4 linked regions of the Homo sapiens genome follow. The protein of the gene in region 1 interacts with the protein of each later gene in a pairwise test. Each region holds a gene or a part of one and is shown on either strand. Other genes may lie near its edges.

Region 1 (7,754 bases):
ATACTTGATTTTCTTTTTTTTTCTTTAAGTTGCTTTAATGACATTTTCTAAATTTTTAGTAAAACTGAAAATCTCATTTTTGATAGTAAAAGTAATGAATCTTTATACATTTTCACAGTGAAACACTTAACATTGCTTAACCATATTTTTCATTATGGTTGTAAAGTATATTACCATGTTATGTATGTATTTTGTTAATAATGTAACTTTGCCCTTTCTTTTCCTACTGTTGTTAATTTTATAATTTACAATTTATCTTTAAGAATCTACATCTTACTAACTTTAGAATTTTGTATAATGAACATATTATTCAGTGTTGTTAACGTAGTGAGGAAAAAACAATTGATATAATACCTCTATTAAAATAATTATTAAACTCTTACTATCTTTACCTACTTTAGTGTTTTCTTTGTAACATGAAATTGTTGTGCGTCATAGTGCATGAAACTTTGCCTGTCTCCACTTTATTTTATTCCATGGCTTTAAGAATAAAAGTGCGAACGGGTATGAGAGCAGGAGCACTAGCCTTTGTTTTCTTAATTACTTCGAAGAGGCAATAAGATTGTGGTCAGCTATTAGCGCAAAAGTGAATTCTAAACAGTAAAATCAGATCTAGCTTTTTCTTTGTGTTATAAAAGCTGAATATGTAAAAGAAGCATAATTATTATTTAAGGTGGCACAGATCAGATTCTGCCCCAAGAAATAAAATTTCAAGGTTCCAGGCACCGATTTCTGCACCGGAGTACACGTAAGATTTTATCTGCTCTGCTTTTGACAAGTAGTTGTTTTGATTTTGAAGGATTATGTTAATACTAATCTATTCACCAGGTAATTGACGTATGCTATCCTAATTATCTTCCTGTTTGGCTTTTTAGTACCTCTGTTTCAGGATTTCTCAAACTGTCATTATATGCTTTATTAAGGAAAAAAAAAAACTAGACCATCTAAGGAAGTTGTATATGATTTTGCATGTGTTGGTGAAAGGAACCTGAAATATAATATGCACATAAGGACCAAGCATCCTTTTTTGTTTATTTTGCTTTGGTTGGTATAATAGTTCTCAACAGATTCAACGTCACCTGGTGCAGTGATCCCAATTTTTTTTTTTTTAATTTCAGCGCACTGTCTTTTCTTCTTCTATCTTGTTTCTGAAGGAGAATGGAGCATAAGTGTGGTTTGTCATTTATTTTATAATCCCATAGATGAAAACGATGCTTGGAAGCACTTTTTTGCTATTATTAAACCCACTCTTTCCATGTGACAAAATAAGGTATGAGAATGACTCACTCATGGAGCACAACGTTTTGGTATATAATACAGGTATTCAATAGCTAATACACTTCTTAAGCAACAGAAGAAACTGCACCGAAAGCCAACAGTTTTCCTCTTATTCTGGTTCTATTATTATGCTTCCAGGAACTATTCAGTTGCCATAGATAGTGGCAATATATTAAAATTTCCTCTGTATTTACAATTCCAAGAGAAATTAATATATTTGTGTTTTAGTGAAAATTTTTTCTCTTTATTGTTTTACCCTATTTTTTGGAAGAGTGATACCTCACCGAAGAGGTTAAATTCACAGGTTGGGAAACATTATTCCTATGAAAACTCAAAGAGGTACTTGATTTTGAACTTACTTTTAATAATGATATAGTTATGCCAAGTAAATTTTTATTTAAATTTTAATTCTGACAATTGGCTGGTGTTTTTTTGGTTGTTTTGTTTTTTTCTTTTGAGACGGAGTCTCACTGTGACTTCCAGGCTGGAGTGCAATGGCGTGATCTCAGTTCACTGCAACCTCCACCTCCCGGGTTCAAGCGATTCTCCTGCCCCAGTCTCCCAAGTAGTTGAGACTGCAGGCACATGCCACCATGCCCGGCTAACTTTTGTATTTTTAGTAGAGACAGGGTTTCATCATATTGGCCAGGCTGGTCTTGAACTCCTGACCTCAAGTGCTCTGCCCACCTTGGCCTCCCAAAGTGCTGGGATTATAGGCATGAGCCACTGTGCCCAGCCCTGGTGTTGTTTATGTAACTCTTATGTGATAAGATTTCATGTAAGCATGAGGTAGAGCTATTACTAATGAAGCATGGTAAACATCAGTGCTTTCTTCAAAATTTTCTAATCTTTTCTTTTAAAAAGGTAATGTTGAGACTTTGCTATTTTATAATATCACTGGAATCAGTTTATCAAATTGCATTTTTATTAAATTACTAATATATATATAATGCCATTTACTTAATCTTCTCAGTGCCTTTGCAGTATGTTTACTTTTTTATTTTCCACAATAGTTCACTTGTCAAAACTACAGAAACAGGAAGTCATTAAACCTTGGTTGGGTCCATGAGTGGACGGAGATGAAAGCGCTGTTTCCCTCCACAGTTGATAGCTGTGGAGTACATTTTAGCTCCTGTCAAACTGATTGCTAAAATGGAGCTTATTCTTTTTTGTTTTTACATTTATTTGTAAAAAATACCAACAAGACTGCTTAAAGTTTTAAAAAGGAAAGACAATTGCTAAATTATTTATTGCCTCTAATTACTAATGTAGTTTTGGCAGTCTTAATGGTGATTTATTTCATCTGTGGATGGAATTAAATGTTACCAAACAAGGACATTTAATCTATACAACACTGGCAAAAGTAGTCATCAATTAAAAAAAAAAAATACTCCCGATTTCGTTTTTTGTTTATGGAGGATTGCCATACACATGAATGAAAAGCTAATTTTTTTACTAATCTTTGAAATGTTAATTTCTTTTGAGAAACAACTAGAACCTCAAGTTATGTTTTTGATGCTGGTTTTTGAGGAAATAAATATCTTTACTAGTATTGATAAAAACTTAATTTCATCTTTTATCTTTCTACATAAGTATTTTTCATGTTAAATTATAACTGAGGATCATGTAAGGTTTTTTCTCATTGTATTCCAATTTCATGTGATCGTAAAATCTTAGAATTGAGAGAGATCTTATAGATTGTTTTAGAATCCAACCTTCTGCATTCCATCTTAGGAACTCTTTGCAGTTAGTCTGAAGTAAGTTTATGTTTGACTATTTTATAAGATGACCTCCTCATTTCCTATATATGGACAGAAAATACTTGTACTTTTACAGTTTAAATAAACAATTCATTATTGTTTGTTTCTGGCAAAAGGATTTCTCTTAGAGGAAGTAACCCTTCTTTTATTTTAATTTTTAATGGGCCAACATCCATTAAGTTTTTTTCATGGATTTGAGTTTAGTTCATTCATACTGTTGCCCCAAGATTATAATTCTAAATATTGATTATTGTAGCCTTTAATATGTTAGTATATAGCTGGTTTATTTATCAGTACAGAATGATACACAAAGTGTTCAATTTAAACCCCCAAATGCAAAGGCAAAGTACGGATTTGTCCTTTAAAACTTGCTTGAGTGAATTTAGGCAGTTAACGCTGGCTGCTCTATCAAGAAGAGTGTAAGATGGATTGTTTGTTTATGTTGATGTAGAACTGACCATTTTTTAATTCTCACAAGCAGTAAGAGCTTCAGGTTTTCCCAGTGCTGCCTAAAGAGAATTCTGAGTGTAAGACTAACATATAGTTTTGTTTCACAAATAGGATGTTTTTTTTATTTGTTTGTTTGTTTGTTTATTTGTTTTTACCCTTCTGGAATGCCTGGTATGGGTTTTGCCAATTACCATGGATCAGTAGATAATGTTGGCTTATATGTATTCCCAGAGATTGCCAGTCTCTGGACGGACATTTAAGGTCACTGGTCATGAGACTGCATCTGAAAATTTGAGTTTATCTTGACACCAAATTTGACCTAAATCCTATAGTGAATCAGGCTTGATAGATAGTTGCTTTATACGTTAAGATTTGGCTTAGATCTTTTAAGTAATCTTTGAAAAACATGGTTTTCATATTATGGTACTTCTGTCTTTGGATCACCAAGCCATTCAAAGTTATTCATAAAGCTGTGGAGGAGATTTTGTTTTTTAATTTTCTGGGACTCTGGGAATAATATCAGATGACTATAACTATCCTGTCAAAAATTATCCCACTTATTTTGTAGTTTCCAAACAAATACATGCTGTTAGAAAAGATTACACAGTCAAAATAAGAGATTTTCTTTTTTCAATTGTTTACCATCTGCTTTGTTTTTATTCTTTCAGATGTAATACACATTGGATGACATTTAGCCTGATGTTAGTTTTGCCTTGACGTTGAGAATGTTGAGCCCTCATTCCACTGTCGTAGTCTGTATGTCAGTTAAATACCTCACAATAGATAATCATACTGTAATGTTAAACAGCTCCCTGAAAATACTGACACAGATCTTAAGAGTTTAGGTTAGAACCATAAGAATTGGTTCATTCAGCTTTCAGAAAGCACTGGCAGGGGAGTCAAATGAAATTGTGAATCTCAGCCCACACATGAAAGAACGATTAAGATTATTGTCACTAAGAAGCCCAGAAATGGTTATCAGCCATTGATAATTTAAGAAGTGTCCTTGCCTTCTTTTGCTGTATTCACAGATTTGGGAATATTTTTATGCTTTAGTCATTTAACTAGAGAACATATGCTTACTATAATTAAACAATCAAAATGCTTTGTTACCATTTTCTAAGACTAATTCATCCTTAAATCAGTGTCATTTATTCGTCATAAACTTCAACTTCATTGGCTTTACGAAGTGTTTGAAATGGTGTTTTTATGGAATCACACTTTTGATTCATGTGTTTAAACTTTGACATCTGTATGTGAGAATTCCCTGTCCTACTCTTCTAATCATCCATAAGTCGACAGCAGTGTTGTTTCTTAGAAGTTGGTTTATTGAATTGGAATATAAACACGAAGTAAAGAATGCTGCTTCTCCATGGGAGGGGTTGAACACATTCATTGCTGTAGTTCTCTTCCCTCTCTACAGTTCTTTCATATTCAGTTTATTTATTTTGATGTTTAGGGTTACAAAGTTATAAGTGCTGCCTTGTAGCTAGTTTTTGGAAACAATTCAAAATATTTATTCTTTGACTGTTTTCTTGTGGGGAGAGTGAAGGGTGGGAAAGGGGCAAGAACACTAAGAAAATTAAGATAAAGACTGCTCAGCTGAAGTTTTATAAAAATCTGACTTGAGTGTTTTTCTCTTCATTTGCTGTGCTTGTGTAAACAGTGTGACACCATCGCCACAACAGGCTCGGGTCTGTCCTCCCCATATGTTACCTGAAGATGGAGCTAATCTTTCCTCTGCTCGTGGCATTTTGTCGCTTATCCAGTCTTCTACTCGTAGGGCATACCAGCAGATCTTGGATGTGCTGGATGAAAATCGCAGGTGATTGGCCATCCGTGACTCTTGACAGCTTTATTGCATATTTTTTGGCCTCTTGTTTAGTGGACTGTGGTGTCTTTCTTTTCTGTTTTTACCTTCTAGCCTCTTTCTAAGATGCAATGATTTGAAACAGCTTGCTTTACTTTCTTTTAATTTGAAATTATTGTCCAAAATTCACATTTCACAAGATTACATTAGCTTTCCTTCTGTCAGGGAGAGTATACATAGAAAGTGTAGTGATTTTTTTCAAAGGCTTTTCTAGCCTACTCTAAGTACTTGATTCCACTTAGGGATATGCCAAGGGGCCCCGTCCCATTGGATTGAGTGTTAGACTGAAGTTTACTAGTCCTCGTTAGTCTTTTGATTTAATCATTTATGCTGCTGATATGATTGGATTAATAAAGCAAATCTGAGGAGGTGATGTCAGCGCAGCTGCCAGGACACTTTTTTCCTTTCCTCTCAGCTACGGATTTCTAGGCTTGTTTTGAAAATTCCAGGTGCTATCATCTTTTTGATAATACTGATATTTTTCAGTGTTGATAATTTATCTCACTTTTGAACATCTCCAGGTAAAATCATCAGTAGTATACTTAGACTTATTCATACAAATAATTTTTTTGCAGTTATCTCAAGTACTTTTTGTCCTTGCTTTATTACTACATAATGTTTTAAAGGAAATTCAGGGAGCTTTTTTGGCATAGTGTGGGAAAGATAGAGTCAATTTCATTTCAACTCTGAACATTTATCTAGTGGCTTCTGGTAGTCAGGGTTTGAATTTTCATGATTATTTAATTGTTACTTTTTGCATTTTGAAGAATTTCACAATAAATTAAGCTATCCCTTCTAATAAATCCTGTTTCTTACCTTAGGAACGAATATGACTTCTGACTTGCACTGGACAAACTTTTTCTTGTTGAGTGCTTGTAGTCCTCACACAGGCCCTGGGTATGTCACCATACTTCGTAAGCACCTGTCCATGCTACTTATCATTGTTGAATCCAGGGCCTTTCTGAGCCTTCCCAGAGTTGACCTAGTGCTATGCATTTGGGCCCAAGGACTGAAAGCTGCACTAAGAAGAGCTTAAAAAGAAAGCTCATGGCATGAGGGTGTGGGGAGGGGAATTATATATACATGTATATGTATAGATCTGTTTTGTTTGTTTTTCCCCAAGGGTTTAGACTCCCTTTTATGCTTTTTGAAGCTTCAAAGCCATTCTTGGACTATTGGGAAGCTGTAAGAAGCAGCAAGGTTCAGAACAAAAAGCATGGATTCAGGGAGTCAGTTAGAATTAACCCGGATCCACCCCACTACATAGCTGCATGATGGCCTTGAACAAATTGCTTAGCTTCTTTTGGCCTCACTTTTCTCATCTGTTGAGAAATAGAGAGGAAGGGTAATAATATCTAGCTTTGTGAATTCTTGTGAGGATCTTCTCCCCTCCCCCACCTTTAATTATAATATAGGGATAATGGCCTCCAATTCTTTATTTAGTATGGTAGGAGATCTTTCAAACGATATTGCATATAAAGTAGCTGGCACTTAAGAGCTAATATTTACAAGGGCCTGTTTTCTCTTCCCTCCTTAAAACAGATTTATTGTCCATCAGCTAACTTGTTTAACTTTTTAATTACAATAAGTCCTTAGTGGAGACCAGATTATTAGGTGCGAGTATATCATATCAAATGCTATTACATTTAAAATATCTGAATGAGAGAGATATTTCCAAATCTTGTATAAAAAGTAATAATAGCTAGATGGCAGAGTCACAGTACATTAAAATTATATGTCCCAAAAAGTAAAAAAAGAAAAAAAATTATTTGTCCCAATTCCCCCTCACCAGCATATACACAGTTCATTGCAATAATGTGGAACTTATAAAAATATGGATTTTTTCCTCCATAATGGAAAAAAAATTGTGCCTCAGAGTCAAATGTATAAAATCAAAAATCGTATTAGTATAAACTTTGTATTTTTTTAATAATGAAAAATATTTTTGGACTTTCAGTGAAATTTTATTTCACTTTTTTACATTGTGATGAATTGATAACTCTAAAATCCCTTTTCTGGGAAGGAATTCTCTTTTCTCATTCATTTCAGTAAGTTTTTAAAAGTTCATGAAGGAGTTATATTAATAATGCTTTTCTCCTAGATCTGTAGCATTAGTTGTTACCTTGGAGCTTGGAGGGTTAGATTCTCATCAGTCTTATTGACGCTTTCAGTATTGAAAGGATTTTTTAAAGTTGTATTCACTTAGGATCTCAGTGTTGAGCAAGATTTTATCAGAATTTTAAGTGCCAAATCAGTTTTTATTTCCTTTGTGAGAAGTATCTGGCATGACTTTTCAGATATAAGAAATAGGAATGTGAAATTTGGATAATGTTCTACTTGCATGATTATAAAATAATACTGCTTATAAAATTTTAAGTGCTTCTATGTTCCTTGCT
Region 2 (8,081 bases), on another chromosome or scaffold:
CAGAGTGAGAGTGAGACCCTATCTCTAAAAAAAAAAAAAAAAACCCTAATCTTTGTCAAACATAATGAAAACCAATTAAGAAGGGGAAGTTTCCATATTTAAGTATTCAAAGCTGGAGTCACTTAAATCCTGAGAAAGAAGACTGTTAAGGCCCCATGACAGATTGGACCCAGCAAAAGAATCAAGAAAATGCGGAGATCTGGCCTGCCACAGGCAGTGCCTCTTTATTTCTTTCCCACTAGTGCTGGGCTGGCTCCATGGAATCCCACCAAGTGCAGCAGACAGAGGAGTAATCTGTTGGAATTTTTGTCTCTGGTGTCAGAGCAAGGATTCATCATTATCTCCAGAAGAGCTGAATTAATTAACCATCATAACAAAGCAGGGTCAGCTGCATCCAAATTCTCAGGACTGCATAAACCCTAGAAGACACAACTTCCTTTGAACTTATGAATATGCCCAAAAGGCAAACAGAGCATACACTAAAAAGGGCTTAATCACTGACCGAGTCTCCTCATTTCATCTTCCTTTCTTTCTGACCTATTTTGGCCTTTTCTTTTTTTAATTTTTTCTTCTTTTCTCATTAATTTTCATCTGCTTTTCATTTTCTAATGAAGTAAAGGCATCTAAAACTACTGGCTCAGGAAGGCCCCATCTAATCGACCATAGGCAGTGATCCCTGGGACTCTGGGAAGAAAGTTGGCTTTAATTTAAAGCAGGGTTTCCTTCTGCTTTAAACTAAAGCACATAGATATGGGGCACATAGTTACGAGAAGAAGGATGGAGTGAGCGCATGGACTGTGAGTTGACTCCAGGGAGAGATTTGGGTCCTTTGTTGGTAACCTCAGACTTCCCAGCTCTGTTACAAAAAGCAAGAATAAAGTGCTGTCTATTGGATCTAGAAAAAAAAATCAGGAATGGAGTGCATGAGCTTTGTGCTCTATTCCTTTGCATTAGCAGACACGTCTAACTTGTCTCTGAAAGGGAATATTAACCCGGGTGTGGTGGCGCACATCTGTAGTCCCAGCTACTCGGGAGGCTGAGGCGGGAGGATCACTTGAGCCCAGGAGTTTGAGGCTGCTGTGAGCTGTGATTGTGCCACTACACTCCAGCCTGGGTGACAGAGTGAGACCTTGTCTCTAAAAAAGGGGGGAGTAGGGGAATATTAGAACATGACTGCGTGGGGGTTGTGTGTGTTTGTGTTTTAACTATCACAAGCAGCATGTCCCAAGCCATAACCTTTTCTGTCCAGTAGGTGTCAGCTACGCACAGCCTTTCTCTTTCTAAATCCATATTTGTAAGAAAACGGCCTTTCATCCATAATTTTCCCTAGTTAAAGGGATCAATTTCTTCTGATCTGAAGCACGCAAAACAGCTGAAACAGTGGCTCCGATATTGGAAACAGAATTGTACTACGTACTTGGGATATGGCCACACTGAGGACTGTGCGAAGGGGGTGACAAATGTTGGGGGGGCCCAGGTGAAGTCCTGTGGGTCTCACTGAGCAGATAAGTGTTAGGATCAAGGTGAGTCTCTAAAAGGCACAGTTAAGACACCAAAGCAAAAACACAGAGTTTCCCTCAGGTGAAAGAAATTGAGGCTTTGACCAGTAGCTATAGCATCCTGAAAAAGTGCTCAGTGTAAACTATCAATCTCCCATTTGCCCTCAAATAGACTGTCTTGTTTTTTACCTCAGGTAAAATATTTCTTTAAGCCTCAGGTTTCTAATTTTTAAAATCTTTAAGATAACTGCCTCGTCTGCCCAAGATACTACATGAGGAGGAAAAAAATTGAGATATTGTTCAGAAAACCATTTGTGGGCTATAAAGCACTATTTAAACGTAGAGAATAGAATAAAAATATAAAGGCAAATGCAGAATAGAGTAATCCCAGCACTTTGGGAGGCCGAGGCGGGTGGATCACAAGGTTAGGAGTTCAAGACGAGCCTAACCAACAGGGTGAAACCCCGTCTCTACTAAAAACACAAAAATTAGCCAGGCATGGTGGCAGGTGCCTGTAATCCCAGCTACTTAGGAGGCTGAGGCAGGAGAATCACTTGAACCTAGGAGCCAGAGGTTGCAGTGAGCCGAGAGCCGAGATCGCACCACTGCAGTCCGGCCAGAGCAGCAGAGCGAGACTCCTTCTCAAAAAAAAAAAAAATGCTCAAAATTTAATAAACATTAGTTTGTAATTTTTTACAGATTTTTGTCAACATATTACACCAAGGCTTTTCTTTCTCTCTTGTGTTCAATGTTAGTCACCTGGAATTTTGACACACTTAAGAGTTTATGTCACAAAAAGATTCCAACCTACAGAGAGGCACTTAATATAAATAATGCTCCCTTTGAAAGTGGGGAGATTCCTTTCCTAGCTTTGTTTGTTTGTTTGTTTTGGTTTGGTTTTTTTAAAGACAGGGTCTCACTTTGCCACCCAGGCTGGAGTGCAGTGGTGCGATCTTGGCTCATTGCAGCCTCAACCTCCATGGCTCACACGATCCTCCCACCTCAGCCTCCTGAGTAGCTGGGATTACAGGCGTGAGCCACCACACCCAGCTAATTTTTGTATTTTTTGTAGAGATGGGGTTTCACCACATTGCCCAGTCTGGTCTTGAACTCCTGAGTTCAAGCACTCCACCTGCTTCGGCCTCCCAAAGTGCTGGAATTACAGGCATGAGCCACCGTGCCCAGCCCCTTTCCTAGATATTACATCGCACCAGTAATCAATGGTAATAAGCCACTTATAAATTCCAAGTGCTAAAGAAATAGAAATACTAATCTTCAGCAACTCTTCCTTTCCAACGTGTGCACCTAGTACCGCTGTATTCCAAGAACGTATTTGATCCCATAACCCCCTTAGCTTCTTAGTTCATAATTTGAGAGGGCTAAAGCTTACCATATCGTTATCAGTTTGCACTGGTTTTAGCAAGAGACCTCAAATTCATCACATTCATGTTTTATCCCACATTAAGTCTGCATCATATAAATTAGAACTACCAAATATTACTGAAAGAACTCACGTTTAAGAAGCAGAAACATTATTTGTTTTATATGGTGATGTTGAAATCGGAGCAGAAGTCTTCAAATCTGAATGTATACAAATGAATCTATCAAATTTTTCCTCAGTGCTTTCTAAGGTTGTCAGGAAAGGCTAGAGGCAAATTCGACATTTTTTCATTTCCCATGACTCATTCCCTCCCATGGAGTTTCGTGCTATATATTCCCTGCCTTGTCTGGTTTTTTTTGTTGTTGTTTGTTGTTTTTTTTTTGCTGAGTCTTTCAATTTGCTGTGTCTTGAACTAGCAAAAGGAGGAGAGGAAGTTCCTCCCAACCTTTGAAACCTCTTAATACTTGCTGAGTGATCAAGGGGGCAGATGACTGCTGATTGGACTTTACCCCATTTGAAAAAGCTTTTGCTATGATAGCTCAACAAACCTCATTTTAAGGAATTAAGTATTTATTTTCCTTAAAACCCAAAATCTTTTGGAACATTTTCCAGAAAGTGAGGCCAAATTTTTGTAGTTAGGGGTCAGTTTGGGGGAACTTAATTTTTTAGGCCCACTTTAAAATTAAATAATTTTGCATAATATATTTAATAAGGCTAAAAATAACTTTATTTTAGACTTATAGTGTTGTCCACTATATTGCTTCATGCTGTTTTTTCGAAATAATTTACAATTATAAATAGACATTGTTGCTCTCACCTTAAGGCAGCAGTTTCTGAGTGAAATTCTTCAAGAAAGTGGAGGCATCATTTCGATATGGTAATAAGCTAGTTATTCTAACATCAACAAGTATGTTTCATGATCAGCGATATACTGATAATTCCCCATGTGTGCTTTTCAAATAGTTTATAAATGCAAAAATATTAGAAGTTGCAGGATCAGGGTTTGAGTCATTTTTTTTCATGTTTCAGCCAGTCCTAAATAAGAGCTGTGAACAACAAGGCTACCTGGTGATTTTGTTTTTTATCTTTTTGTATGTGCATGTGGTTTTTCTGGCTTTTTGTTTTGTTTTGTTTTTGAGACAGGGTCTTGCTCTACCTCCCAGGCTGGAGTGCAGTGGCGTCATCATAGCTCACTGCAGCCTTGACCTCCTGAGCTCAAGCAATCCTCCAGCCTCAGCCTCCTGAGTAGCTAAGACTACAGGCCTGCACCACTGCACCCGGCTAATTTTAAAATTTTTAGTAGACGGGGTCTCGCTCTGTTGCACAGGCTGGTCTCAGACTCCTGGGCTCACGTGATCCTCCCCTGTCAGCCTCCCAAAGCGCTGGGATTACAGGCGTGAGCCACCGCGCCTGGCGATTTTGTTTCCTCTGTACTCTTCGTAGCTCACAATTACGCTAAAAGAACCTTTTTCCCATTGTTAATTCCTTCCATTTCCCTCCCCCACCCGTCGATTCCCCCTATTTTTAGGAAACTCGAAGATGATGTCCTTTCAACGTTCTCTCCTGTATTCTCAAATACAGGATCCAGTCCTAAATATTTTTTAATACATTGGCTAGTTTATTTCTGATGGCATTAAAAGTATCGGCACAACTGTTCCCTGATTTATAAAGCTCACAGATGCTGTATGACCTGTAACATTATACTAGCTAATGAGCTCTCCCGGAACAGTTGACGTGGAAGGAGTTTACTTCCACTTGGTTGCAAGGAGAAAGATGGAGAAAGCGAGAGACGATTGCAAAAAGAAATAACTTAGTCCATTTTCTCAGTGCTGTTTGGGGGCTTTGTGCTAATACTTAAATTGCAGAGGAGGGAGGAGACGGGACTGAGGATGGAGGGGAGCAGAGGAGGCAGGGGCGGAGCCTCGGCGGGCGAATAAAACCCCTCGCTAAAGAGAAGCACGTTAGTGTGTGGAGAAGCCACTCTCCCGAAACCAGAGGGATGGGGCCGGCTGTGCAGTAGAACGGGGATCGAAAAGAGGAAAACAAGGGCACGAAGACCAGCGAGAAAGAAGAGGACACCTGGGAAAGGCGGAAGCAGAAGACGGGGAAGGGAAAAGAAACCCAAAGCAGGTGGAAACCAGATCTAGAGCAACACCGTCAGGTTCACAGTTTGTTTTTCTAGAAGAGAAGAAAGTACCTGAGGATTGCTCTTTTTTCCTACCGTTAATGAAAACTACTTTTGTCTTCATCATAAAAGAAAAAACTAAGGGGAGGTAAAGGCAGTCTCCTGTTTTATTAGGGGGAGAGGTGAAGGGAAATCCAGGCTCACTTTCTGAATAAGCCACTGCCTGGTGCACAGAGCAGAACCATCCTGGTTTCTGAAGACACATCCCTTTCAGCAGAATTCCAGCCGGAGTCGCTGGCACAGTTCTATTTTTATATTTAAATGTATGTCTCCCCTGGCCTTTTTTTTTTTTTTTTTTTTTAGCAACACTTTTCTTGTTTGTAAACGCGAGTGACCAGAAAGTGTGAATGCGGAGTAGGAATATTTTTCGTGTTCTCTTTTATCTGCTTGCCTTTTTTAGAGAGTAGCAGTGGTTCCTATTTCGGAAAAGGACGTTCTAATTCAAAGCTCTCTCCCAATATATTTACACGAATACGCATTTAGAAAGGGAGGCAGCTTTTGAGGTTGCAATCCTACTGAGAAGGATGGAAGAAGGAGCCAGGCACCGAAACAACACCGAAAAGAAACACCCAGGTGGGGGCGAGTCGGACGCCAGCCCCGAGGCTGGTTCCGGAGGGGGCGGAGTAGCCCTGAAGAAAGAGATCGGATTGGTCAGTGCCTGTGGTATCATCGTAGGTGAGTTCCATTCCTTCCCGCGGACCCCTCCTCTCCCCTCTGGTGGTCCTCCTGTGAGATCTTAACCCTTCGAAAGCATTATTGTTCTTCCTATTCCTTAGAAAAGGATTGTCAGTCACCTGAGCTGTAACTCACCTCCACTGGTCAAGTTTGAGAGGCATAGGAAATACATCATACATCTCTTCCTCCAAACCAGGCAAAGATTCTGCCCAGTGTTCATAGAATGGAGCAAATCGTGGTCAGAAACCCGGCTGATGATTAGCATTGCCTGGGAACTCCTTAAAAATACAGGTCCTGGTCTCGACACTTGGAGGTTCTAGTTCAATAGGTTTAAGGAGGGACTGAGGGACCTGAACAAGTTTGTATGCAGCTATTATTCCCAGGCTGGGGATGGGCTTTTAAGGTATATTTGGTAGCTATTTTGCAGTTTTATGTTAAATGAAACTATGGGATAGGTATTAAAAATAGCAAGAGCAATGCCCTGCCTTTTTATTTTAGCGTTTTCCACCTTATGCAGCACTTTTACTGTGTGAAGTAGCTGTGACAGGGCTGTTATTCCCATTTCACAGATGGGGAAGTTATGGAAGAAAAGAGGGGACAGATTGTGCCTCTCGGTAAGTGGAGAGTTTGCAGTTTCTCCAGTTGCCTGGTGGGGTCCACCTGTTTCTTAACAGCCACGGAGGACCCGGTGAAGCTCTCAGAGGGAATCAGGAGTAACTAGAATGTGTAGAATATGGAGTTGAGGAGGAACTGATGGGTAAAATATGTGTCCTAGCTGGGAGGTGCTGAAGGTGGGGAACCTGGGTGGCCCCAAGAGTGCCAGTGCAGGCCACTCAAACCCCCTGAATGTACTTTGCAGGGCAGGAGTCCCAAATACAGCTTCGTCTCTAGACAGCACATCCTCTTTCCAGAGAAGCCTTGGAGATGGATGGCAGGCAATAGCTCACTATTCCTGCCCTCACTTCAGAGTGAGAGATTGTTCTGCTATCTTTGGTAGGGGGCTTTACTTTCTTCCCAGAAAAAGGAGTGCAGGACGGTCAGGCATAGATATGCTTCTTTGTCATCTCTCCAGAGTTCCTTTATGAGAGCTCGTTGTGTCCTGGTGCCCCTGAACCAGTTTCTCTGGCTGACGCCATGTTCTATGCAATAGCTCAGAGATATTTTGGCATCTGAGCAATAGTGACACTGGAGAGCACTCTTGAAATCAAATAAAATCAGTGCAGTATTCAGATAATCCTCTTCACCTCTACACCCAGAACTTCAGTGACCAAGCTCTCTTCAGTCTCTAAAATGAAATCCCATCCCCCCCCCACCCCCACCAACTCCTCCTACACCCTGGAATCCTATTTTATGTGATTCCCTGACTCTGGGAAGTTTTCCAGGCCATCTACAGTTATAAGAAAGATAATGTTATAAGAAAAATTGTAGTCATGATCTGAATCTCTCTTTACTTTTTCTCATGACATTTTTTTTGCCTCTCCTTTACTTTATCTCAATTGTTCAAAAGAAATGAGAACAGCCAAGTATTCAGTATGTATAGCACATGCCAGTTTAAGGTCTATAAATAGCCCGTTCACCAATTTGACTGACAGAATTAAGCATTTTCCCCCTCTAGGAAGGTTCTGACTTATACACAGATGCGCACGCCCACAGGCACACAAGCACAATTAAACATCCTTCCTGCCTCAGCCTGGCTCGCCCTTCCCAATATAGGTTCAGGTATTCTTTTTTTTTGTTCAGACGGAGTCTCGCTCTGTGGCCCAGGCTGGAGTGCAGTGGCGCGATCTCGGCTCACTGCAAGCTCCGCCTCCCGGGTTCACGCCATTCTCCTGCCTCAGCCTCCCGAGTAGCTGGGACTACAGGCGCCCACCACCACGCCCTGCTAATTTTTTTTGTATTTTTAGTAGAGACGGGGTTTCACCGTGTTAACCAGGATGGTCTCGATCTCCAGGTTCAGGTATTCAAGGGTAGAGGGTATTTTCCTATATACTGATGTTTTTGTCTCTTCCTTTAACATCTTTTTCTAAGATTATGAAGAAATGGGAGTGTTCAGGTATAATAAGTACAATTTCTGTGGGTATATGTTACTACTGATTTGTCCACAACCTTATGGATGGTACTTCAATGGGAGAATAATCTCAAAGCTCCCCATGGTGGCATTACAGTAACTAGAATGGCAATTCTGGTGTTCTGTGATGAAAAGAGATTCCAAATATGTGATTTCAGAGAAATTGGGATATTTTTGCAAAACATGAGAATCCTTGTAGAGTTAATAGGCACTATTCTACCCCAACTTAAGCTAGAAACAAATTTCCCCTTTAAGATGATAACAGGGGACAAA
Region 3 (7,754 bases), on another chromosome or scaffold:
CAGTACCTCTTCTGGCCCAGAGCCGGGCACATAGTAGATGCTCAGCAAATCAACTCCCATCTCTCATCTCTACTGCTCCCACCAGATACACGCAGGCAACAGGGGCTCTGGGAGGACGACGCTGTTACACAGAGCACTTAGATGGCCTGTCCTAGCCTCCGTTTCCAACTCCTATGGGAGACAGGTTGATCATAGTCTAAGTAATCTAGTCCCCTCAGGGCCCAAAGCCCTGTCTCTAGTGGCCCTGCTGATACCCCAACCCCAGGGTCTTTGCCCCTGCTGCCTCCTCACTGCACCCACCCCAGGGCCTTTGCCCCTGCTGCCTCCTCACCGCACCCACCCCAGGGCCTTTGCCCCTGCTGCCTCCTCACCGCACCCACCCCAGGGCCTTTGCCCCTGCTGCCTCCTCACCGCACCCACCCCAGGGCCTTTGCCCCTGCTGCCTCCTCACCGCACCCACCCCAGGGCCTTTGCCCCTGCTGCCTCCTCACCGCACCCACCCCAGGGCCTTTGCCCCTGCTGCCTCCTCACCGCACCCACCCCAGGGCCTTTGCCCCTGCTGCCTCCTCACCGCACCCACCCCAGGGCCTTTGCCCCTGCTATCCCTCCGTGTGCAGCACTCTTCTTCCAGACAGCCACGTGGCCTCTCCCGCCTCACTCAAAGGTCTGCTCAAATGTCACCTTCTCAGAGAGGCCCTCCTTACCACCCTTCTAAAGCAGCTCCCCCATCACCATTCTCGGCACCACTCCCCAGACACGCCTTGTTTTATTTTCCCTCGTAACATTAAAAATTTTTTTTTATTGTGGCAAAATATACATTACAGAGAACTTACTACTTTAACTCCTCCCCGCTCCTTTTTTTTTTTTTTTTTTTTGAGACGGAGTCTCGCTCTGTCGCCCAGGCTGGAGTGCAATGGCGTGATCTCAGCTCACTGCAGCCTCCACCTCCCAGGTTCAAGCTGTTCTCCCGCCTTGGCCTCCCAAGTAGCTGGGACTACAGACATGCACCACCATGCCCGGCTAATTTTGTATTTTTCGTAGAGACAGCGTTTGTCCAGGTTGGTCAGGCTGGTCTCGAACTCCTGACCTCAGGTGATCCGCCAGCCTCGGCCTCCCAAAGTGCTGGGATTACAACGCCTGGGTGGTGTGGGCCACTGTACTTTAACCCTTTTTAAGTGGACAGTCAGTGGCATTGAGTAAATTCAGTGTTGTGCGACCCTCCCCACCATGCACCTCCAGAACTTTTTCATCTTCCCAAACTGCAACTCTGCACCCATGAAACATTCACTCCCCATCCCCCTCCCCCAAGCCCCTGGCATCTTCCATTCTGCTTTTGACCCGATGACAAATCTTCTGTGAATGGGACTCCTCTAGGGACCCCATGTAGGTGGAATCTTGCAGTCTGTGTTCTTTTGTGCCTTGCCTAGTTCATAGGCATAATTCCCTCTGGGATCCCCCTGCTGTAGCATGTATCATAGTTTCCCTCCTGTTTTGGGAGAGTAATGTGCATTGTGTGACGGGCCACCTTTTGTTGATCCATCCATCCCTCGATGGGCACATGGGTTGCCTCTACCTTTTGACTAAGGTGAAGGATGCTGCTGGGAACATGGGTGTGTGTACGTATCTGTTCGAGTCCCTGTTTTCTGCGCCTTGGGATATGTACTCAGAAGCTCGGAGCATTTTAAACATTCATTTGTTTGCGTGTTGTCAGCCTTCCTGAGTAGAACACAGGGGCTCCAGGGAGGAACTGCTTCTATTTCATGCACTGCTGTGTGCCTTGTGCCTCGGAAGCTGCCTGGCTCCGTGCATACTTGTGGAGGGGTTCATGGAAGTCACCATGAAACCCTCCACCTTAGCGACACAGCAGGGGACCTGGGTCCTGTAAGCTCCTCGAGGTGGCCGGGCCAGCCCGGGCATCCTCACTCCTGCAGCTCTGGTGCCTGGCCACCAGCCTCTGCCGGCCGGTCATTTCCACCACCTGAGCCATCCGTCCTCCTTTGATTAAGTCTCATTTTGCCATGAAAAGAAAAGGAGGTGACAGTTGGCTTGTGGGGGAAGGTCATTCATTCCAGAAAGGAAATTGGATGGCGGCATCTCCATCGTCCGCACCCGGCCCCTGCTCCCGACAAACTCGCTCTCCTGCCCGCTGCCCGCCTGCCCGTCCCCCGCTGTGGGCAGGAAAGCCAGTGTCAGGCGAGACAGCCCACACCCAGCCTCTCGTGGCTCTCATTGAACAGGCAGCTCTGGACGGATCAATGCAAGCCAGACGATGACCAGTTGTGGCCAGCAGTCCTTGAACGTGCTCGCCGTCCTCTTCTCATTGCTGTTTTCTGCAGGTAAAACCTCCGTGGATGCTGGGGGCGGGGGCGGCACGTGGGGGTGTGGGCTCTTCCTGAGATTCGTGCTGGCCCATCTGGGGTTCTGGGGGCACACAGAGGCTTGCCTTTTGTCCTCCACCTTACTGGCACCCCTCTGGTGAGCAGCTGATGTTGGTTGCTGTGTGGTTGGTCTCTGTCTGTCTCTGTCTCTCTGTCTCTATCTCTACTGTGCACCGCAGCCCTGGGACTTCCCATGGGAGCTCAGCTGGCTGCCAGGACCCTCGGGAGAAGCCCTGACTCACATTCTCTCCTTTGCCCCTGCGAGACAAGGTTAGGCAGTGTCCTAGTCATCCCATTTTATAGATGAGGAAACTGAGGCTTGGAGAGGGACCTGACTTGCCTAGGACAAGGCAGTTAGCGGATTCTAGCCCGACCAGCCTCCTGGGCTGTCCCTGGGATCCCAGTTGAGGTCGCAGGTGGGCTCCTGCTCTCCCAGTTACAAGGATGAGCACAAACTAAGTCCTCTGCTCCTCCCAGCTAGAGCTGAGAGCCCAAGTTCAAGGGCAGCCCTGCTCCCCAGCCAGGGCCTGCTCCCAGCAAGGAGCCCCCTCTGGCTCTCTGGCTTCCTCTCCCTCTGTCTTTCTGTGTCTCTGGGTCTCTGTCTCTCTGTCTTTCTGTCTGTCTCTGTCTCTCTCTGTGTGTCTGTGTCTGTCTCTGTATCTCTATCTCTCTCTGTCTCTGTCTCTCTCTGTTTCTGTCTCTCTGTCTCTCTGTCTCTGTCTCTCTGTCTGTCTCTCTGTGTCTGTCTCTGTCTGTCTTTCTGTGTCTCTGTGTCTGTCTCTGTCTCTCTGTCTCTTTCTGTGTCTCTGTGTCTGTCTCTGTCTCTCTGTTTCTGTCCTCTGCCTCTTTGTCTTTGTCTCTGTCTATGTCTCTGTGTCTGTCTCTGTCTGTCTCTCTGTGTCTCTGTGTCTGTCTCTGTTTCTGTCTCTGTCTCTGTCTCTCTGTCTCTGTCTTTCTGTGTCTCTGTGTCTGTCTCTGTCTCTCTGTCTCTGTCTATCTCTCTGTGTCTCTGTCTCTGTCTATGTCTGCCTCTGTCTTTTTCTATCTCTGTCTTTGTGTTTCTGTCTCTGTCTCTGTCTTTCTCTGACTCTGTCTTTCTGTCTCTGTCTCCATCTCTCTGTCTCTGTCTCTGTGTCTCTCTGTACCTCCTCATGCCCGCATGCTCTAACAGGGTCACTGACACTGGCCTGGTGGTTTTCAGCCCCTGCCCCTTTGCTGGGGGCAGCTCAGAGGGAGGCTATGAGGATGTCTGGGGGTGCTTGGCAGGGCTCCCCGGACAGCAAAGCCAAAGCCACGCCCAGGCCAGGGGTCTGGGGGCTACCCAGCTGCTCTCCCCACCCCAGATGCTTCCCATGCTTTGGCTCACCTGGTCCTCACCATCCCTGGAGGACGGACCCACTCAGCCCATTTTACAAATGAGGAAGGTGAGACACTCAGAAGGAAAGCGGCCTGCCCGAGGTCACCCCTTCAGGGGAGGGGCCAGCCAGTGAATCAGGGCCATCCAGATGCAGGAGTTACGTGGAGCTGTGCACACAGGGGTGCGTTCATGGTTGAGGCTTCGGGGCCCGAAATGCGGCTCTCTCCTTTGCGTCCCTGCTCTGCTGGGGCCTCCTAACAGAGTGTCCCTCGGCCTGGAGTCACGCCATGCCCCAGAGCAGAAGCCCACGGATGCTGCCCTTTACTGCCCTTTACAGCCTCTAGTGCTCGTAGGGCCCCTAGTGCACACACAGCCTCTTTCTCTAGGTGGGGGCTGCGCCTTGCTGTTTACAAAACGCTCCTGGGAGCCCCCAGCCCGCCTTGGAGACCATGAGTCTTTCATCAGTGAGGGGAGGAGGCCAGAGAGGTCACGATGGCCCAGGCAGCCTCATGCCAGGACTCCCACCCGGTTGTCCCGGCTCCCAGCCCAGGGCTCTGTTGGCTCCGGGAAGGCAGCCGGGGAGGCTTCATCGTTACCAAATGGCCAAAGCCCATGGCGCTGACCGCCCAGTGGTGGCCGGGTGAGCTGGGTGCTGGTAATGGGCAGGACCCTTCCACATCCCCCAACCTCGCCGGGCCTGCCCTCCCCGGCCCCCCATCTCTGCATATCAGGCTCCTCCCAGTCCCTTGAGGCCCAGCTCAAAGGCTGCCTCCCCATGCTGCCCTACCGCTCTGTCCCTTCCCTCCCTGAGTCCTGTGGTAGCCTCACGGGCTGGTCCCAGGGCCTAAGCTAGACTTTCTGCCCAGCAGCGTGAGTGTGCCTGGTTCCTCCCCAGCTGCCCACGCACTGAGCGTGAGCAGGGCCTCCTCACTGACCTGGGCAGTGACCCAGACAGTGACCGGAACTGGCTAGCTGCCTCTGCCCCTTGCCGCTAGGCCAGTGGGCCCCAAACCCAAGCCCATCAGCATCCCCTGGAGGGCTTGCCAGGACAGACGGCGGGGCCTACCCCGGAGCTTCTGATTCAGAAGCCCAGTGGCCTGAGAATCTGCATTTCTGACAAGCCCTCCGGGGATGCCCTCGAGGCCGATCAGGGGCCACACTTTGGGAACTGCTGCTCTGAGCCACAGTTTTCTCCCCTGTACGATGGGAATAAATGAGATGGGGTGAGACAGCTGTCTACTTGGGGCTCTCTAATAACCTCTACATCCCCAGAGGGGGTATTCTTCTTTCTTAAGGTTGAGGAAGAGAAGGGGGCCTGGAGAGCTCCCCTGGTTCCCCAAAAGCTGAGACCTTTCTCTCGCAGTGGTCATGCCCATCCCCACAGAAGAGGGTGCTGTCTGTGGGGGAAGGGGTGTGGAATTTCATGCCCCCCGCCGGAGGCAGCCTCAGCACCCCAGCACATGAAGGCCGCCTGCCCATCTTCCAGCCCAGCCCAGCCCAGCTGGGACTCCCCTGCAGCAGCCCCGGGTGGGTAGGTGGGGAGCTGTGTGGGCTGCAGTCTAATAACCTCTCAGCAGACACAGAGCTTTCAACGAGCTGGAGGAACTCCTGCAAAGCCACTGCCTTTGTGGTTAAAGGAATGTATTCAGCCAGCGAAGCCCCTTTTCAGTGATACAAATTAGATACAGCGATCTCTTTTATGAAGATACTAATTAAGCCTGAGAGAGCGGGCTTTAGGTTTTTTCCATTGTTATATTTGTTCAGACTTTCAGTCCTGTTTATCACCATCGGCACGACTCGTAAATACCATCCTGGGTTTGCAGTAGCATTGGTGGCTGAATAGGGGCCTCCGCCCCTGAGCAGAGTGGTGGGAGGGTTCCAGGCCAAGGCAGAGCTACCACCGTGAGGTGGGGGTGACTGAGGCAGGCCCTTGGGGACCTTGGGGCCTAGGGTACTAGTTTAGTAGAAACCAAGGAACGAAGGGTCTGCTGTTTTTGACCCAAGAGGTACCCAAGAGGTCCTTGCACCTATGCCAGCCACCACCCGGGCCAGCCTGGGCTGAGCAGCAGGTCCACCACTGCCCACCTGGGAACAAAGAGCTAGTGATACAAGACTGGAGAGGGCCCCAAACTTTGAATCCAGGCCTGAGTTCCATTCCTGTCCCTCCAACACTTATCAGCTCGGGCAAGTCACCTTAGGTCTCTGAGCCTCAGTTTCTCCATCTGTAAAGTGGGATCTCAGACTTGCTTGGCTGTGTGAGTTAAATGAGATGGGTCTGTGAAGCATACAGTAGGTGCTCAGTTAAGGCTGATTTCCTAATTGAGTGACTGCTGCATGTCAAGCATGTTCACCGAAGCAGGAGAGCCAGCCCTGCCCTCCAGGACCAGCCAGTCTGGGTGACACAGAGAATGTAACCAGGGCTGGGAGGCTCGGGGTAATGGGAACCCAGAGGTGAGGCTCACAGTGGACCACAAAGGCATCCAGGGGAGGGAAGAAGCAGGCAGGACCTGAGAAGAGGCCGGCCAGTCCCCCTGCCTCTTGGCACCCGTGGACTGGTGAGGGACCCCTCTGAGCCTGGTGACTCTGTCTTCCAGTCTTGTCTGCACATTTCCGGGTCTGTGAACCATACACAGACCACAAAGGCCGCTACCACTTTGGCTTCCACTGCCCCCGGCTCTCGGACAACAAGACCTTCATCCTCTGTTGTCACCATAACAACACGGTCTTCAAATACTGCTGCAACGAGACGGAGTTCCAGGCGGTGATGCAGGCGAACCTCACGGCCAGCTCCGAGGGTTACATGCACAAGTGAGTGCCACTCTGGGGGTGCAACCCCACTGCCTCGGGCCCCAGGCAAGGGGCCTGCCTCCCAAAATCGCGTCCCCTAGGGAGGCGGTTGGGTAACCGCTATAAGGTTGGGTGGGCCTGGAAGGAGTCTGGGAGAGTCTTTGGATGACCAGGGTTTTCGGCCCATTGTGCCTTCTAAGTTTCAGCTTTCTCATCTGAGAAATGGACACAGAGGCCAGGCGCGGTAGCTCACACCTGTAATCCTAGCACTTTGGGAGAATGAGGTGGGTGGATCACCTGAGGTCAGGAGTTCGAGACCAGCCTAGCCAACATGGTGAAACCCCATCTCTACTAAAAATACAAAAATTAGCAGGATGTGGTGGCAGGTGCCTGTAATCCCAGCTACTCAGGAGGCTGAGGCAGGAGAATCACTTGAACCCAGGAGGCAGAGGGTTGCAGTGAGCAGAGATGGCGCCATTGCACTCCAGCCTGGGTGACAAGAGTGAAACTCCGTCTCAAAAAAGAAAAGAAAAGAGGGAGGGAGGGAGGGAGGGACACAGAATACTCACTTTGCAGGGTTACCATAGAAGCTAAGTGAGGTTAAGGATGTGGAAAGCTTTCAGGCGTAGAAGGCGCCTGGGCCTGTAATCCACCGGGTTCCTTCATTCATTCTTCATTCATTTAACAAATACTGATTGACACCATTGACCCAGAGATTAATCCCATGCAGTTCTTTTCCTTAAGGTGATTAAAATACATTGGGATCAGGGCCTGATGGAGGGGACCACAGGTGTGGAGAAAGAGAGAGTTTGCTGTTAGAAAAGCAATGGGAACACGCTAAGTAGAGTCATGGAGTTTCAAAACAGCATGCGTTTCTCTATTATGAGTGAAGCTGGCCGTCTTTTCACATGCCTGAGAGACATTTGTATTTCTTTTACCGTGAGCTAGCTGTTTATGTCTTCTGTCATTTTTCTATTGAAGTTTTTGTTTTTTTCTTATTTACTTATGGGTGCTTTTTATATATGAAGGAAATATGATGAGTTGCAAACATCTTCCCATCTTCTCCTTGTTGAATGTTTCCATACAAATGTTTCCTCTGTGACTTTGACTTTATACTGCTTTTTCCTCATGCTTAATTTTTGTTATGTAATCACATTTTATCATTTTTTTTTTCTTTTATGGTTTCTGGCTTTTGCATCATACTAAGAAAGGTGTTTCCTGCTCTGAGGTCA
Region 4 (8,140 bases), about 130 Mb from region 1:
TAGGCTTTTAAAAATCTTTAACCACTTACCACTGATCTTTTACACTCAAAAAATGCGTACTTCAAAGAGTTGCAGTATCCTTCCTTCAAACACTGCCGAGGTGATTTTCCTTCCTATGACAGACACATAAAACAATATAAACACCTTGGAAATTTTCTCACAAAGTACAAAATAATTGTCCTTCTGAAAATAGTCCTTTTTAAAAGTGTTAAAGGAGGAAAATAGAAAGTTATGTAGGAAATAGTTCTTAATTCATTTGGGCTATTGGTGCCTAAAGAATGAAAAAAAAATTGTAAAGTAACTTGGGAACTTTAAGGACACTGTTGAATTCTTGAAAACACTGGTTTCTATTGGATACTTTTCCTTAAACTGTTTATATAAAAATCTAGAAAGGGTTATCTTCATTTCCTTATGGGTGAAATGTGTGAACTGGGTACCCTAAAATCAGAATATTTTTAGTGTTGGCACGAAACACTTCACAAAGATATTAACAAGGCAGGCTGGAATACTACTTAAATAGAAACATGTGGCCCATTCATGCACCAGAAAAAATATAACCCAAAGCTCATCTGCTCTGCATAATCAGGGATTTTCCCTCAAGCAGATTTTGACTCTACAGCCGCATCACTGCAGCCACTCCCCAGAACCTTTATGTTGCAAGTGCCAGGCACGCTCTGCCAGTTTTTCCTATGAAAAGCTACAGGGTACTATGTCTGTGGTATTCCTGTTCCCCAGGAGTCTTGGCCACCTTCCAGTCTGTATGTCTGCCTGGGTCCTAGATATCAAATGTCATCTACCTCAGTGACTCTCAAAAGTGGATAAGAGTAGCAGGTTTCCTTCCTCTCCAAACTCTGCAATTCTGCTGGTGGGATGTGTTGCCCACATGAACGACGTGGAGGCAGACAAAAGAAGACTAACCATATAAAAGGTTATAACTATAGTTTATAAGCTGATGCCTCTTCAAACTGTATCTAAGATGCTACCTTTTTCAAAAGCTTTCAACCTATATTGTCAACTGCCTGGGGTAAAGATCCATCTAGATACACTAAAGCTAAGAGACAGTCATTCGTTATCCACTCCACCCCAAATAACAGACTGCTAGCTGTCTGCTCTTCCTTTTTATCCAGCATATGGCTGGGTGAGATCTCCTAGACGCCCTTGCATCTAGCTGTGGTCCTGTGACTAAGTTCTAGCCACTGGAATGTGTGGGAAACAGGTGTAGAACTTCTGGGTTGGTCCTTAAAGAGGCTTGCCCCTTTCCTCACTTCACTCCATAAGGTTGCCGGGCCTGATGATGTGGAAGCAAACCAGTCTTGGACCATGAATATGAGAGTAACACCCTACTTGCTATATTTTCCTATTTTCACAGCACAGAGTCACAAGATCAACAGTGTCTGCGTTCATGGAAGACTGAGGGAAATGACTAGGCCCTGATTATAGGCACAAGGACAAAAGAGAAAGTTCTCTATCTCGTTTAAGCCACTATTATTCTGGGTCTCTGTAACATGCACTTGAATCTATATTCTAACTAATACACTCCCAAGCTTTTTTGCCTTCTGAGGTCAAGATCAGTCAGTGCTCTCAAACATGGCTGTGCCCAAAACCAACCTAGGAAAGAAACTTTTAACTTATTGGGGGTAGGGTGAGGGCAGCAGTGGAATCTGTACTTTTAAAAAGCCACACCACTTCTAGGTGATTCTGATGAAGAGTCAGTGGATCTGGAAGCTGTTAGTGGAGACGAAGATACCCTATGATGAGTGAAGTTCCTCTGGCAGAGTTTCATTGTCCTGATCATCCAGGAGTCATTAAATCCTAAGAAGTCTCTTCAAGAGATGCCTTTTGAATCTGCTTTTTCCCTGCTTTCCTCCAGCCCCACTGGAATTTACATCCTTACCATTACCCTGAGTTTCTCTGAGGCCCTCTAACTCCTTGACAGTCTCCCAAAGCAGCACCTAGAACTAAATACATGTTTATGTTGAATTCCTCCCTAGAGCGAGGTGCTGCAGGTTTCAGGTGGGTTAAAGACTGGCAAGAAGAGACTACAGCACCAACCTGCCATAGGATCAGATTAACCTTTTTATTCAAGAACTTAAGAAATCAAAAATTTCCATCATAATTAAGGTTGCCACACAGAGCAAGCACAGACCTCAGCAGAGCTTTCCTTGGTCTTTCAGAGTCCCCAGTGAGGAGCAGTGGGCAGTAGCTGCCAACAGATTGTAGGAGATTGTTCTGGACCTGCAAACCTCCTCACTATTGCCCTTTTACAATCCAGCTGAAGTCAGCATTCAGAATGAATTTAACACAAACTGTATACGAACTTCCATCTAAAGAACTGCTTATAAGCATCACGTTTTCTGGCTGACCAAACTGAGCACTGGTAAGGCCACATATTCAATGGCGGGAAAAGCAAAGTCTGTACCAGCTGTCCCAACCATAATCTCTGCCTACAGCATTCTAGCCAAACAGCTCCGCTTTCTATACTGGAGAGACCATGTTCCATTCATCAGTATTTGTTCCCTGAACTGGAGCCTGGCGCTCCGTACATGTTTGCTGTATCAACCGCTGCAGAAAGCCAGCTTGGAATTCTCTGTGCTGCTGCTATTGTCCTCCACTTGGAGTTTCTTTCCTCAGTCCTACTCAGTGTACTTTCTTCCCTTGACTACTCATCAACATGGCCTTCCGATGCTGAACGTCTGGATAAAATCCAGTCTCCTCACTCTGACACACATACAGGCCTTCACACCTGGCTGCAACCTTCCCCTCAGGCCTTCTGTCGCATTCCCCTATGGCAGGACACTAGCTCCTCTGCGCCCTCCCACATCTCCCTGCCTCTGCACTTGCTGTTCTTTCAGATTTTCCCCACAACCACAACAGTTCCCACTCCTTTACTTGATAAACTACTACTCAACTTTTAAGACTCAGCTCAAATGTCATCTCAGAAGATTCCAAATTCTGAAGCAAAATCAGACGCTCTCCCTTGGGCTAACGCATTTTTCTCCTCAAGATCTAGTCATTAAACACATGTTTAATAAATGCTTACAGTCTTATGGCAGGAATTTAGACCCTTAGATGTCTATTTCTCCCATGACACCAAGCTTACATGGGTAGTGACTGTTACTGATTCATCTTCGTTATCACCAGTGTCAGGTACCATGCCTGCCACTTAAGAGGCATTTACCAGGAGCTGGCTGAACGGCAGCACCAGTGAGTAAGGGGCAGAAGGGACACAGCCCTGGACAGGGGAGCCTGAAAACAACGGTACTTCAGTTTCCTCATTTATATAAGGAAGTTGGGCGAGATAATCTCTTAAATTTATAATAACTCAAGTTTTACTAGACATTGGGAGGCGAGAATGGCTGACTGCTAAAATCAGTGAACCAAACAAATTGTGACTCGGTAGAAACACTGGTACAGTCTTACAGTGGATGTCCATTTGGGGGTAATCTTTTCTCTGAAATAACAGCAACTTTCTGAAACTACATCCCCCAATGCAAAGACAATTGCACACAATTGAATGCCCTCTCGTCGGGCCTCTGCAATTGGAAAAGGCACTTGTGCTTTACTTGAGCTCTAATCCAGAACTCAGGTCCACTGTGAACCTCACTACATGTTTCAGTGCATTCCAAGAGGGTGCTGAGGAGACCTGTGTCTGTAGCCGGGGAGTGAAGGAAGAGTGTAGGGGAAGCAAGATACGAAATCGTGAAAATATGGAGTTGCCTTATTTTTACAACTTAACATCCAAGAATGCAGAGAACTGTAACTCAGAAACAAATTCACATCAACACAAGTCAAACTGAGCACACATTGTCACAACTGAACAGGCAGGAGACACTACTGGCCAGGGCAGTGTACCAGGTTTACGCAACTCTCTGGAATCATTAATTCTACAGATTATCATTTCTAGGCAGGCAAGAAACCTGGCTTATTCTCCTTTATGTCTCCAAAGCCTAGTAGAGTGCTAGCATTCAATAAAGGCTTCGTGAACTGAAATGGGTTAACCTTTACAAAAACCCGACAGGGTGCGTTTATCGTTATCTCCGATTTAACCCCACAGGGAACTGGGGCTCCGACAGCTCAGTGGATCTGCGCACGTTCAGTGAGCCCGAGCTGTGACCTACGCCCGGGATGGTTAACTCCAACCGCCGCCGCGGGCGACCCGCTGCCCTCCGCCGAGCCAGGCCTGCCTGGGACAGGGGTCGTCACCACCGGGAGCGCCCGGCCGCGCTACCTGGACCACACAGTCCGACTGCAGCAGACACGCGCCCAGGTCCTCCTTCAGGCCCGCGCACGCGCCGCCCTGCGGCTTGTCCTCATAATACTTAGGCATGACGGCGCTTCCCCTCCGATGCGGACGCGACTTTCTCCCACCGCAACACTTGCAACCGGGTCGGGAGCGAGCGAGGCCCCAGTCTCAGGGGACCGGAAGCCAGCGGCAACAACTTCCGGCGGGCCGCGGCGGTAGGGCCGAGGACTACGGGGGCCGAGAGGTGGCGCGTCCGCGGCGGAAGTCGGTTCCCGTGACGCGGCGCGCCCCAAGGGCCGGCTCCGTTGAGGGAAGGGAAGCCCGCCCGGTGGCGGCTGGGGTCGGCTGCTGGGAGGAGGTGGTGGGCTGGTTCGGACGTGGGTCGAGGCTGTAGCAGGACTCCAGGTGAGGCCTGAGGACCACTCTGCCCTCCCGCGGCCCGGGCTCGCGCCGGGGGCCATTTAATCCCGACAGCTTGCGGCCTGACGTCGCTGCGGCCTGGCAGTGACCATGTCGGCGTCCGGCCCCTCGGCCGGCGATAGAGTTGCGGCTAAAATGAAAGGACGCCCAGTTACATTTGCATCGTAGATAAAGAAAGAGCATTTAGTATAAGCATGTCCGAAATGTTGCGTGGGATGTAGGCATACTAAAACCTTATTCGTGGCCTGTCTGAAATCCAAATGGAGCTGGGTATTCTGTGTTTTTATTTGCTAAATCTGGCAGCCGTACCCGCGGCCCCGGGCAGGGAGGGAGCAGCTGGGCTCGGCCAGACCCTGCCGGCGTCTGGGGGGCCTGCGAAGTGGAGGGGAGACGGGCAGCCGGGCAGTGGCCGGCGTTCCCCGGAGCTCGGACCGGTTGGATTGGACTCCGACGCTACCGCTCCCTCTGCTGAACTATTCCGGATGTAAAACACTAGGGATCGGAGTTTTTCTTGGTTTTTTAATCTCATTCTAGTGACCGAGAAGCTTGCTGGCAGTGCGCTGATGGATCTGTGTGAATAGGCCATTTATTTGACCTCTTCAGTAACACTGTTCTAACCGGCTGAAACTGCTTTCTTAGGCATTTTCTTAAAAGCTTGGTGGTTAAGAGCACGGAATTTCGAGTCAGATTTCCAATCTTGGCTCTATCACTATCCTCGGAGTCATGGGGCAGTCACATCATCCCTGTCTCTGTAATGGTAGCTGCCCCTGGATAAGTGTTATTAGGTGATTCAGAAGGGTGGGCTGTTGCCCTTGCCTGAGGTTGCAGTCTGCGGTTCCCAAGCCCCAAGACCCGCCTCAGAACTAACTGCATTTGCTTTTGACTCCTGGCCTTTCTCTAGGGTTGGGAAGAACATGGAAAGTGACCTCCCTGCCAAATAACTCAGAAGAGGAGTGTCGGTAGCCAAATGTTTCTTCAGAATACGTGTAAAAGAAATGTTTTTCTTCCATCTAGGAAGATGTTACCGAGTACTTCAGTGAATTCCTTAGTGCAGGGGAACGGAGTCTTGAATTCCAGGGATGCGGCAAGACACACAGCCGGAGCGAAACGCTACAAATATCTGAGAAGGCTTTTCCGCTTTCGGCAAATGGACTTTGAATTTGCTGCCTGGCAGATGCTCTACCTGTTCACATCCCCACAGAGAGTTTACAGAAATTTTCATTATCGAAAACAGACGAAGGACCAGTGGGCCAGAGATGACCCTGCTTTCTTGGTCCTGTTAAGTATCTGGCTCTGTGGTAAGTGTGTTTATCTGAGATAGAATTGAACGCTGAGTGTTTCTGATTAGATTTTTTGTTATAAATGTGTTGTGGGTCAGAATCTGGAAATATTGGAAACTATTTCTCCTTTTTACTGAAGCCTCAAAAAATCTCACAGGAAAGAAAGTTGTAGTCTTGGTTCTACAGGTCCCAAGCAGATGCCAGAGTAAACTGTTACCCTAGGACATTGAAAAGCAGGGGACAAGATTCACTCCATATCTTTTTAAGTACTTGAATCGGTACCCAAATGTCAGCTGACTGTGAATAGGAATATGAAACTGGAAATTGCATTTCACAGGCAAATCCACAGTGAGAATTGTAAAGGTATTGATGGGAACCTGAGAAACTGAAGTTCTCCAATTCCATAATGCAAGGGTCTCATTTACCTGTAGGGTGTTGAAGTGGGTAAGATATTGAAGTTTATAGGGTGTTTTGCACCTTAACTGGACTTAAACTATGTTAGTGCCTTCTCTACACTGGCGTTCTAAATACTGAGGCCACCGTGGTGAATCAGCCTGGCAAGGGCCCACCTCAGGAAACTTCAACTCTCTCAGTGGCCACGCTGTGTCCCAAGGTAGTGTTCACACATCTTGGGAGTTTTGTTTAAAGACCTGTCTCTCCCACTAGCCTGGGCATCTGGAGGGCAAGGGATGTGTCCTGTATTTCCAGAACCTAGCAGAGTCCCTAAATGAATCTTGTGAATCTTTCTTTCAGTGTCCACTATAGGATTTGGCTTTGTGCTGGACATGGGATTCTTTGAGACAATAAAGCTTCTCCTTTGGGTTGTACTCATAGATTGTGTAGGCGTTGGTCTTCTGATAGCAACTTTAATGTGGTAAGTACCATAACTTTGGTTTTTCAGATACTGCTGTAGCATCTCCATTTGTTTGCTTCAGAGGTACAATAGCAGCAGATGGAAATTGAAACCCAGGTAGAGTTACTAAATGATCAATTTTGACTGCCAAGATTATTACAATTTTCCCTCCTGTGTTGCCACCTATATCAGAAAATACTATAAAGGCTGGTTTATAATATTGTCAAATGTAGCAAATAATTGAAATAATTATGTTTTGAACCCAAAATATCTGAGATCGGTCTCAATTTAGAAAGTTTAGTTTGCCAAAGTTAAGGACATGCCTGTGACACAGCCTTAGGAGGTCCTGATGACATGTGCCCAAGGTGGTCGGGGCACAGCTTGCTCTTATACATTTTAGGGAGACTTGAGACATCAGTCAATATGTGTAAAATGTACATTGTTTTAATCCAGAAAGTGGGGAAAGGCAGGTTACAGTTAGATAAGAGACAAATGGTTGCATTCTTTTGAGTCTTTGATCTGCCTTTCACTGAATACACAATTTACTTGTGAGAGGCAGGTACAGGAATAGTCATTTATGCCTTAATCTGGCTCAGTGAGTCTGCATTTTTACATAAACAATGGGGCAGAGGAAGCAATCAGATAAACACTTGTCTCAGGTGAGTAGAAGGAGGACTTTCTGTCCCACACCTGTAAAGATAAGCTATCTTAGGAATAAAATAGGAGGCAAGTTTGCCTGACACAGTTACCAGCTTGACTTTTCCCTTTGGCTTAGTGATTTTGGGGTCCCGAGATTTATTTTCTGCATACTAACAAAATGCCTGGTTTTGCAAAAATATTACAGATTTAGCCAGTTCTGCTTAAGTTGTCTGGATGATAGCATGGTTTTCTGCATTTGTCAATAGAGACCACTTCTTGATATTCATTGTGTTTAAATCCATTTAGATCTAAAGGGTTATTTTGTGGAGTCTTACTTTGAATCTTTGCATTAAATGAAGTATACTTGAAAAAGAAGGATTTTTTTTTTAAACTTCTCATGCCTTCCTACTGAGAATAAAATTCTCTCTCTTTCTCTCATACACACACACCCTCCGCCCCCCCCGCCCCCCCACCGCCACACACACACACGGGCTTTATCAGAAGGGTTCTCAGTCTGACTTTGGTTGATTTAGCAACAGCAGTGTACTGAGGATAAATCTGGTGTTTGGTAAAGTCCTCCTGTGTGGTTGGCATGCTGGATGAAGGGCAGGGGATGTGGCTAGCGATCTCAGTAGAGGACCAGTGGTTGGGTAGACATGGTGGTCATTGTGGAGAACATTTTAGTTGCAGAGAGACCTGGGTTCA

Evidence for each region.
Region 2: the proteins of MFF (region 1) and SLC7A8 interact in binary tests that used the Homo sapiens proteins (3 or more experiments, as listed by UniProt).
Region 3: the proteins of MFF (region 1) and SHISAL1 interact in binary tests that used the Homo sapiens proteins (3 or more experiments, as listed by UniProt).
Region 4: the proteins of MFF (region 1) and UNC50 interact in binary tests that used the Homo sapiens proteins (3 or more experiments, as listed by UniProt).

What each region holds. Positions count from the first base shown.
Region 1 is NC_000002.12:227,342,072-227,349,825, forward strand, and holds part of MFF (mitochondrial fission factor), read left to right. Parts: intron 1-673; coding exon of another isoform or gene 674-748; intron 749-5,154; coding exon 5,155-5,313; intron 5,314-7,754. UniProt on the Homo sapiens protein: Plays a role in mitochondrial and peroxisomal fission. Promotes the recruitment and association of the fission mediator dynamin-related protein 1 (DNM1L) to the mitochondrial surface.
Region 2 is NC_000014.9:23,180,423-23,188,503, reverse strand, and holds the start of SLC7A8 (large neutral amino acids transporter small subunit 2), read left to right. Parts: upstream 1-4,843; 5' UTR 4,844-5,589; coding exon 5,590-5,740; intron 5,741-8,081. UniProt on the Homo sapiens protein: Associates with SLC3A2 to form a functional heterodimeric complex that translocates small and large neutral amino acids with broad specificity and a stoichiometry of 1:1.
Region 3 is NC_000022.11:44,295,461-44,303,214, reverse strand, and holds part of SHISAL1 (protein shisa-like-1 precursor), read left to right. Parts: intron 1-2,237; 5' UTR 2,238-2,269; coding exon 2,270-2,336; intron 2,337-6,329; coding exon 6,330-6,543; intron 6,544-7,754.
Region 4 is NC_000002.12:98,604,079-98,612,218, forward strand, and holds the start of UNC50 (protein unc-50 homolog), read left to right. Parts: upstream 1-4,510; 5' UTR 4,511-4,648; intron 4,649-5,564; exon of another isoform or gene 5,565-5,630; coding exon of another isoform or gene 5,631-5,681; coding exon 5,682-5,961; intron 5,962-6,696; coding exon 6,697-6,817; intron 6,818-8,140. Other genes in the region: COA5 (cytochrome c oxidase assembly factor 5), read right to left, coding at 30-113, 4,229-4,327. UniProt on the Homo sapiens protein: Involved in the cell surface expression of neuronal nicotinic receptors. Binds RNA.